Linked DNA regions of Homo sapiens: region 1 is linked to region 2. Evidence: fine-mapped expression QTL. Tissue or cell type: whole blood. Region 2 holds a variant in brackets; the other region holds the start of a gene. All regions are shown on one strand. Distances are from middle to middle.

Region 1 (5,000 bases), 970 kb before region 2:
CAAAGTTCTTACCTTCATGGAGTTTACCTTTTGTTTGAAGGAGACAGATGATAAACAAAAGGACAAATAAATGTGGGTATAATTTCAAGTAAAGATATTTGCTATGAAGAAGTACTATAATGGCACAATCCACAGAAGTCTTTCACAAAATTGTCTTCTGGGTCTAAAAGTCACCCAGATCTTGATGCTACCTTCTTAAAATATCCACACCCTTTACTCATGTTTCAAGACCATAAAATGAAAAACACAATGTTTTTAACACGTTTCTTTAAATGTCCTTTTCCCCTTTTCTTAATCTTCTTTCTCCTTGCACTACCATGCCCCAAAGCTCCCAAAGCACCCTCCTTAAATGCCCAAAGAGTTCCTATTCCCCAGTGTAAATGAGGCTTCTGCTATTGTTTGGTTTGTATGTCTTAGTGAGGATTTAGAAAGTACAATCTATCTTAATTGTTGATGAGTGATAGAAGGTGGTAGGCTGCTTGGGCTTTTTGTATTTATCTACTTAGTTTCTGACTTATTCTTATTCTGTTAGTTTCAGTGACATGAGCTTGTGGTAAACCAAAGCCACCTGTAGCAGATATTATTGGTGCCCCGCCAGTATGCTATATTCCCTTACTATTTCAGCGTATACCAATGTGACTCTTAATTCTTCTATCTCTGGCTTTCTGTGGCCACTGAGGCAACTCTGTCTACTCTTGGAGCATTGCAGACAAGCCAGGGTCTTAATAATCCCTGAAAGCTGCCCCCAATCATTGACTGACGGTAGTTGGTGTTTAAACAACCCAGTTATCTTGTCCTCTTGGTGGAATCACTCAGTCTAAGGTACATGTTCCATATTGTTTCCCAGAGATTTCTAGGAGGATTAAGTTCTGGGTGCCTCTAGCGGTAATGTGCTAGATAAGGCATCTTTTTGGTCTTCTCTTCCCTATTTCACTTTCTTAGTCTCTTACTGGTGTTTCCTGCGATAACCTCCTAAATAAAATACTTGCTCTTGAATACCTGTCTCCAGATCTGCTTCTGGGAGAACCCATACTAAGGTGGTTATTAATTCAGTCAAGTTGCAGATCAGACAGTAACCTCCCACTGATTGTCTTGGCACTTGAAGGTCCTGAATCCAATGCAAGTTCTATGTCTTCATGCTCTTTGTGAATGTATCTGTTGCTCAAGGTCGTGGGTGACCTTGAGCCCAGCAGTCAGCATTATCCACAGCTGAAGTAATACCTATGTGCTCATATTAGGCTATCTGACAACAGTGCAATAATCATTAGACACCACTGTTTAGACCCTGAGTATGTTCATGACATTTGCCTTTTGACTGCTAAGTAGAAGATGTAATGATTATAGGCTGATGCTTTCTCAGGAGGAGGAAAGTTATTGAGCTTTACAGTTTCAAATGCTTCTGATTTTCTTCCACGTTTAGTCTGGCTGCTGACACATGTGTTGAAATCTCTCATGTCGATCAGCTTGAGAATAGCTGGGACTGCTGAGCTAAGTCTGTGCTCATAAAAGCAACAAAGAATTGTATTACAGGAAATGACCCCAAATTGACAGAAGATTAGGCTAGGAAGCCTGAACAGGTGTTTTAATCTCTATGCACAAAATCAGTCTGTACATATATTGCTCACATTCCTGCTGTTTTAACTATATTTTTTTTTTCAATTTCACTTTGTTATTCACAATTTGATAATATTTTATGTGGCCATGGTGTCTGTGTGATGAACTATAATCCAATGTGACATTCTCTGAGAGTCAAGCTTCCAAGGACATCAGATTTTCACACCAGGACACTTTGTAGGACACCTTGCTACTCTCCATGGGATTCAAATATTAGAAATAATGAGAGATCTAAGACTTGATGTAATTGCCTGCATGTAATGAATCAGGCCAAATAAAAAAGTGAGAGACAGAGAAAGGAAATGGTGCTAAGGAAAATGGGGACCTATCTTAGTGTTTGTCTGAGAGAAAACTGCTCTTTGTTTTTCCCGATGTAATGGCAAGAGTCTGCAGCCAGGAATCTAGTCCTTGCTTAGGAGCTGCATGACCTTGTGAAAATTACGTAGGTGTTCTGCAATTTGTAATTGCATTTATTGTAAAATTAATTTTACTTTTCATACGTCACTAGACAGAGCATTTTGAGGTTAGGAATTGGGTCTGAATCAATGATTTCTCCAGCACCCACATGGCATTTGGCACAGAATACATCAATAATGATTTTGGATTAAACAGGGGAACAAGCACAAGGAACCATGGTGGTCAGAAACGGGTTGATCTGCACCAGAGAAAGGGAGACTAGGGGAGAAAGGTCACTCTAGATTTCGTTCAATTATTGAAAATACGGTGTATTTACTATGTGCTGGGCACTTTTCTAGGTGCTAGAAAGACTACAGTGACCAAAACAAAAATCCACATCTGCAGGGATCTTGCATTCTAGTGAGAAAGTAAGATGGTAAAAAAGATAAATACGTAAATTTTATACAATGCTTCGTAACGACAAATGCTAAGGAGAAAAACAGCACAGAAAAGACAGAAAGGAAAAGAGAAGGGGCGCATGTGGTGCAATTTTGTTAGGATGCCAGGGAGGGCTGAGCGTAGTCGTAAATGACCACATTATTTGATGGATCAAGCCAGGGACTGCAAGTCTGTGTTTCTGAGAGACACATAAAGAAAAGAAGGCTTAAGGAATCCAGAAAGATCCAGAGTGGGGAAATGAAACGAAAAGAAATCCAGCCAGTGGGAAGTCGTGAAGGGATAGTTAAACGCGTTTTGGGAGGAAAGAAAAAAGCAAAAGTGCGGTACAGCCTTTCGTTACACGTGAAAAGAATCATGTTTCTTTTTCTAGTTAGAAAAAGCCAAAGATTGTGCGATTTATGCCCCAAACCCCCTTGTAAGGGGATTCTCACCTCAACTTGTCTTCTGTGGTCAGTGTTTCCCGCCCCTGAATCAGGGTTACTGTCACTATGGCTTTCAATTGGCCCGGCGTAGGCGCATGCTCTGCGCGTATTGGCCTCCGCTCCTGTCCCCAGACAAGCGGCCATCTTGGGTCCCGCCCCTACCGTGGGGTCTTCTGGGAATTGCAGTCCCCGCTCTGCTCTGTCCGGTCACAGGACTTTTTGCCCTCTGTTCCCGGGTCCCTCAGGCGGCCACCCAGTGGGCACACTCCCAGGCGGCGCTCCGGCCCCGCGCTCCCTCCCTCTGCCTTTCATTCCCAGCTGTCAACATCCTGGAAGGTAGGGGCGGGGAGGCAAGCCCAAGTGGAATACTGTTTCTGGGGCGCGGGTCTGGGTTTCCACGCGCGTCAGGTCATCACCCCGGAGCCCAGTGGGGCCGGCGCCGCTCACGGGGCGGTGGGCTTCTGTCCCGAGTACTCTTCCGCCCCACGAGGGTCTCAGGGTGGGGACTCGGGCCCCCCAATTCCCAAGCACCGACCCTAGCCCTAACCCGTTCCTCCTCCACCGTGTTTATACATTGGGGAAACTGAGGCACGGGGCCACGCCAGCGGGTCCGGGGACGCCACAGCTCTTGGCTCTGGGGGTGTAGTCGGCACCCGCCGTTTTGGGATGGTTCGTCAGTTTCATAGACAAGTAGCGAAAATCCGTCCCAACAGGTCTGTGTTAAACACGCAGCTCTGGATTCCCCTAAGGGGTTGCTGAACACGTGCCCAGGACAGGAGCAAACCGGAGTATAGAGAAGGCAGCATTTTGGGAGATAATTTTACATTACTACTTCAAAAACAGGCAAAGAGGCATCGAATTTATTGTTGTGGGAGAACTCATCGGTACTTGGTCGGACTTTCTTACACTTATTTTATGGTTGTTGTTTTTATTTTTAGCGTCAAAGGGGGGAATTTTAAAGGTATATCCAAGTTGGTGGTGGTGGGGGGTAAGGAGGCAGGTTAGTGGAACTTGAGATGCATCTGCAGATTTCTCTGTAGGCTCACATTCTGCCCTCGCTGTGTTACCTTGGAACAGCCACTCACAGCGCTTATCTGGGAAACAAGGAGCTCAATGCTCCCAGGTCAAGTGGCCAAAGGATGTTGCCTGAAGCCGAAATCTAAATTGAGGTTATGCTTGTGAAAGTTTACCACTTGCAGATTTACTGCTATTATTATTCTGGTCTCTCAGAAATGTGCTGGGACCAATAGAAAATACTCACAGTGGTTGTTTTAGTAAGGTTCTGACCTGGGCCGGGCCCAGACTACCAAGGGTGGTCCCTACTCGCACCTGATGTTAAGCCGGATCTACCTGAACTCTCCCTCCTTGGCTTCAGCCTGCGGCCTGAGGCCTTGGCCGCGGAGGCTTCTGGGAGTTGCAGTCCCGCCTCTTGTTTCTCGTCGGGCAGGTACTCCACCTCGTGGCGTGCCATTTTGCACGGCGAGATGTCTCCTGGGAGACGAAGTCTCGCTTCTAGCCGTTCTGTAGAGCAGCCGCTTGACTCGGAACTACAACTCCCATGTGGACCTGCGTTCATGGCTGCCGGCCTGTGTCCACCTGCTGCAACCTGGACTAGAAATATTTAGTAAAGAAAGAAGTCTAGGGTTTGTGTGTGTGTGTGTGTGTGTGTGTGTGTGTGTGTGTGTGTGTGTGTGTGTGTGTGTTGTTATTGATTGCATATGCTGTTCTAAGTGTTAGATATGGGATTGTTGTATACGGTGTTCCAAGTATTAACGTACATGCTTCCAAAACCACTAACACTTGACCATTTAGAACCTGTTCACATGATCTCTTTTTAATACTACATTTCCCATTTGTATATGAGAAAAAACTTGAGAAGATAGCCCATGATTACACAGCTAGCAATATAATATATATTCAATAAAATATATGTGTTATAATTTAATCCTCTTAAAAGCTATATGAGAGTGAGAACCATTTTTATATCAACTTTACAGATTAGAAAACTAAGGCTAGGAAAGTTAAGTAACTTGTTCAAGTTAAAACACTGGTGAATAAAAGGACTGAGACTGTAAGCCCTTCTGCTTAACAGTCTCTGCTTAGAGAAAG
Region 2 (5,543 bases):
TGAGCATTTCCTGATACTACAAACATGTATGTGTGTGTGTATGTGTGTGTGTGTATATATCCCTGTTTTTCGCTCTCCTAAATCAGTTCTTTCCAGATTTCCAGTGAAAGGAATTTTAGCTTGCTTATGAATGCCATCTAATTAGTTTATTTCTTTGTTACTGGAGAACATGAACAGAGGCCGCTATTTACTCAAGTGTGCACTCTCCAAAGGTCTTTCTTCATTCAGGATGACTTGATCCTGAGGGTTCTGCCATCTGTTACCTCTAAACAGCTAGCCAGCTGCTCTCTAGTCTTTCCAGTTTAAGCTCCATTCTTGGAACTGCACTTATTTCAGTCTGGTTGTTGTATTCACCTTGGGGCTCTGTATTCCTGAAACCATGGACTGCTGATATCTTAGCAGCCATAAGAATCTTCCTACTTGTTTGAAATAGGGGTTTCTGGATCCAGAGCCTAGAGATCATCCTAGGTATGTTTTCTAAGATGTACTTTTTAAAATAAAATTAAAATACTTTATTTTTTAGAACAGCTTTAGATTTTCAGAAAAATTGTGCAGATAGTTGAGAGACTTACCATAACATTTTCCTTCCGTGTCGCCACTATTCCCCCATCCCCGCCCCACCACCAAGTGTCTCCTACTATTAATACCTTGCATTAGTGTGGCACATTTATTACTGAAGTTAATGAACCAATATTGACACATTTATATTAACTGAAGTTCATACTTTACTTTAAAGTTCACTCTTGGCCTTCTGTGGTTCTATGGAGTTTTACAGATGCATATTGTCGTGTATCCACCATTACAGTTTCGTATAGAATAGTCTACATTGCCCTAAGAAACTATATTGGATCCCTGGTAACTAGTAATCCCTTTATTGCCTCTATAGTTTTCCCTTTTCCATAATGTCATATGGCAGTATGTCTGTAAGGTGCCTCCACACCTTTTTATGGCATAAGAGTTCTTTTAAAGAAAAAATTGTAGACTAGTATTCTGTCGTATGGATTTGCCACAGTTTGTTTATACATTCTCGTGTTGTGAAAGACAGATTATTATGAATAAAGTTTCTATAAGCTTCCCTAAGCAGACTTTTGTGTGAACATTAGTTTTCAACTCAGTTGAGTAAATGCTTAGGAACTTGGTTACTGCATTCTGTGGTGAAACTATGTTTAGATTTATAAGAAACTGTAAAACTGTAGTCCAAAGTGGCTATACCATTTTACCATTATTTCCACCAACAATGCATGAACGTTCCCATCACTCCACTTTCTTGCCAATATTTGGTATTATCAGTCTTATGGATTTAGCTATCCTAATAGGTATATACTGGTATGTCATTGTTTTAATTTGTAATCCCCTAATGACATATGATGTTAATATTTTCTACCATTCTGTGCCTTGTCCTTTCATTCTCTTAACAGTATTTTTTGTAGAGCAAAAGTTTTAAATTTTAATACAATTCAATTTAAAATTTTTTTTGTAGATAATTTTTTGTTGTTATATCTATAAACAAATTGCCAAACTCAAATCTAGTATTTTTCCCTGTGTTATCTTTCAGAGGATTTACATTTTGCATTTTTCATTTTACATTTAGTTCTGTGATGCGTTTTGAGTTTATTTTTGTAAAAGGTGTAAGGTCTGTGTGTAGATCCCCCCTTTTTTTTTTTTTGGCATATGGATGTCCAGTTATTCTAGCACTATTTGTTGTCTATTGAATTGCCTTTGCTCCTCTGTCCAGGGCAAGTTGTTTATGTTTGTATTGGTCTATTTCTGGATTTCCTCTTCTGTTCTTTTGATTCACTTACCTATTCTGTCACCAGTACCATGCTGTCTTGATCGCTGTAGCTTTGTAGCAAGTCTTAAAGTTGAGTAGTATCACTCCTTCAACTTTGTTCTTCAATATTTTATTGGCTATTCTGGATCTTGAGCCCTTCTCTATGAACTTTACAATCAGCTTTTTGATATTCACAGAATAACTTTCTGGGATTTTGACTGAAACTGCGTTGAATGTATAATCAAGTTGGGAAGAACCGATAACAGTATCAAGTCTTCCTATCCATGAACACAGAATATCTATTCGTTTATTTAGATTTTATTTCTTTCATCAGAATTTTTTATATTTCCTTACAGATCCTGTACATATATTGTTAGATTTTTACATCTATGTGTTTTATTTTTTACGCTAATATAAGTGATATTGTGCTTCTAATTTCAATTTCCATTTGTTATTTTCTGGCATATTGGAAAGAAATATTTTATCCTGTTTTTTTCAGGATAAAAGAAAAATTTTATCCTGAAACATTGCTGCAGTTGCTTATTTGTTCTAGAGAATGTTTTGTCAATTTTTTAGGATTTTTCTACATAGTCAGCCATATCATGAGAGCAAAAACAGTTTTATTTTCTTCTTCCCAATCGTTATATCTTTTTCTTAATATTCTTTCCTTTTCTTGTCTTACTTTTACCTAGGTCTTCCATTATGCTGTTGAATAGGAGTATTAACAGGGGAAAATCTTGCCTTGTTCTCAGTAGCTTGCTATATCAAATTATTACAGACTGGTAGCTTCAAACAATAGAAATTTCTTCCCTGACAGTTCTGAAAGCCAGAAGTCTAAAATCTAGGTGTCAGCAGGGCCGTACTCCCACAGAAGCTGTGGAGGGAAATCCATTCCTTGACAGCTTCTGGTAGCTCCATATATTCTTTGGGTTGTGGGTGTGGGTGTGACAGTGATCTCTGTGTTCCTGGTCACACTGGCTTCTTGATGAGTCTGTGTTATTTCACCTTTGCCTCTACCTTATAAGGATATTTATGATTGATAGCATTAAGGCCCACTCAGATAACTTAGGGTAATCTTCTCACCTTAAAATTCTTAATTTAGTTACAGCTACAAAGTCCTTTCTTTCAAAGAAGGTAACATTTTCATGTTTTAAAAGTTAAGACCTGATATCTTTGGGAGATCATTAGTCAGCCTACT[A/C]TACTACACTGATCTTAAAGCATCCAGTTTCTCTCCATTGAGTATGATGTCATGTTAGCTGTAGGTTTTTTTGTAGATTTTTTGGTATCGAGTTGACGAAGTTTCATCTATTCCTAGTTTGCTGAGAGTTTCTACTCATAAATGAGTGTGGGATTTTGTCAGTGCTTTTCTGTATCTGTTGCTATTATATGATTTTTCTTCTCTGGCCAGTTGATACGCTAAGTTACGTTTGTTGAGTTTTTTTTGTTGTTTGGTTTTCTTCTATTGTTTTTTTTTTTTTTTTTGAGACAGAGTCTCGTTCTGTCACCCACGCTGGAGTGCGGTGGCACGATCTCCGCTCACTGCAAGCTCCGCCTCCCAGGTTCACGCCATTCTCCTGCCTCAGCCTCCCAAGTAGCTGAGACTAGAAGTGCCTGCCACCATACCTGGCTAATTTTTTTGTATTTTTAGTAGAGACGGGGTTTCACTGTGTTAGTCAGGATGGTCTTGATCTCCTGACCTCCTGATCTGCCCGTCTCGGCCTCCCAAAGTGCTAGGAATGTTTGTTGAGTTTTTGAACGTTCCACCAGCTGTGTACCTGAAATAAATCCTAGTTGTAGTATATAATAACTTTTATACATTATTAGATTTGATTTGCTAAGATTTTGTTGACGCTTTTTATATCATGTTCACGAGCGATATTAATTTCTAGTTTTTCTTTCTTTTAATGGGGTTTGCACGTGTATTCTGATTTTGCTATAGAGTAATGCTGGTATAACATAATGACTTAGGAAGTGTTCCCTCTGCTTTACCTATCTAAAGAAGGTTGTAGAGAATTGCTATCATTTTGTGCTTAAATATTTGATAGAATTCATCAGTTAAATTGTCTGGACCCAATTTATTATTTATTTTTAGAAAGTTAATTATTGATTCAATGTTTTAAAAAGATACAGATATAGATATAACCTGAATAGACCTATTCAGATTATCTATTTCTCTTTTTGTGAGTTTTGGTAGTTTGTTTCTTTTAAGGAATTGCCTCTGTTTATCTAAGTTATCAAATTTGAGATCACAGAGTTGTTCATCATATTTCTTTATCATCTTTTTAATATCCGTGAGATCAGTAGTGATGACCCCTCTTTCATTTCTAATGTTAGTAATCTGTATTGTTGCTCTTTTTTTCCTGGTTAGCCTGACTAGAGGTTTAGCAATTTTATTGATCTTTTGAAAATAATTAGCTTTTGGTTTTGTTAATTTTTCTCTGATTGATTTCCTATTTTCAATGTAATTGATTTCTGCTCTAATTTCTATTCTGTTTTTCTTCTGATTGCTTTAGGTTTAAATTGTTTTTCTTTCTGTGGGTTTCTAACAGAAGTTTAGATTATTGATTTTAGATCTTTCTTCTTTTTTGATATATGTGTTCAGTTCTTTAAATTTCCTGCAAAGCATTGTTTTCCTTGCATTCCACAAATTTTGCTAAGCTCTATTTTCATTTTTATTTAGTTTAAAATAGTTTAAAGTTTATCTTTAAGAAATTTCTTTTTGCATGCCTTATTTTTGTTGTTGAAAGCTGGAAATAATACCTCGAGTGATGGGAACTAAGAATTTTTTTTTTTGTTATGAGGTTTTATGTTAATCTAGCTTAGAGCTGGACTGTGTTTAATGCTTGCTGTAGCTTTAAGTTCCAGATGCTTCTGTGTGCTCGTATTTTTTGTCTTCCCTGTTGTCTTTGGGCTTTCCTAAGAGCTCCTTATTCAATAGAGTCTGTGTGTTTCACCTCTCAGTTGTAATCACCAAAGACCTCTTCACGTGGTGATGAGGTCTCAGGAAGGATAATTGTTGTATATTATGATTACATCTCAGTTTTCTTAGTGAGCCTGAGTTTCTAGGCTGCGATCTTCTGAAATGTTCTGAGCCCTTTTTTCGTCCCCTGACATTAGACAGGAAGGCTAAAAGAGTCTGGAGGGGACTAATTGCCCTTCTCCCAAGTCAGATAGAACTCTGGTAAAATAGCTTCCCTGAAAGGACGTGTCTTTCTTACAGAGAACAATCTGGGAAACTTCCAAAATGGTTACTTTTTCTCTTCCCTGAGATTTTTCTCCAGACTTCCCCATGAGAACATGATAGGGTTCTTGGACATAAAACTCAGAAAAGTATAGTCTCCCCTAAGACTAGGCTGCAAGAGTTTTTAACTCTCAAGCTAGTCTGCACTGAGCCTCCAGCAATTTGTCAAAATTATCATACACGTGTTCGTATCAGTTCCTAGGTCCTTCTGTTTTTGCTTTAGGTAATCTGATCTTATGATTCTTTGTGTTTACATGTTTCTCCAAATTTGGGGATACTAGTTTGCTTTGGACCTCAGTTCTCTGCTGAATCTAAAAAAGTCATTAATTTCCAGTTGGTTCATCTTTTTTCCTTGTCGTAAATATTTTTCTTGTTGCAAATTGCAGTGAAGCAGTGTCATTGGCTGGGATAATATCCGAGATTTGTCATCTCATGCCGGGAAAATTAAGGACAGGGACACACACACACAAGGAGTGAGTTTGGGAGCTGAGGATTAATAGGCAAAAGAAAGAGAAAGGAGAACAGCTTTCT

The links.
Region 1: it holds the start of FHIT, and the variant in region 2 is fine-mapped to the expression of FHIT in whole blood (TOPMed, PIP 0.92).

The regions. Positions count from the first base shown.
Region 1 is chr3:61,249,528-61,254,527 of GRCh38, reverse strand. FHIT (fragile histidine triad diadenosine triphosphatase) reads left to right here and starts at 3,076. Exons shown (of 10, transcript NM_002012.4): 1 at 3,076-3,227. LOC124909387 (a long non-coding RNA gene) reads right to left here and starts at 2,936. Exons shown (of 2, transcript XR_007095939.1): 1 at 2,901-2,936. RefSeq lists enhancers at 2,979-3,273, 3,338-3,397, 3,528-3,657, 3,798-3,927, 4,208-4,487.
Region 2 is chr3:60,277,742-60,283,284 of GRCh38, reverse strand. The region is part of intron 5 of FHIT (fragile histidine triad diadenosine triphosphatase); the gene reads left to right. LOC107986015 (a long non-coding RNA gene) reads left to right here. Exons shown (of 2, transcript XR_007095935.1): 2 at 1-5,543. Among named protein-coding and RNA genes, the nearest start is that of MIR548BB, 340 kb to the left of the region's middle. The variant A/C (reference allele first, on the strand shown) is at 2,970.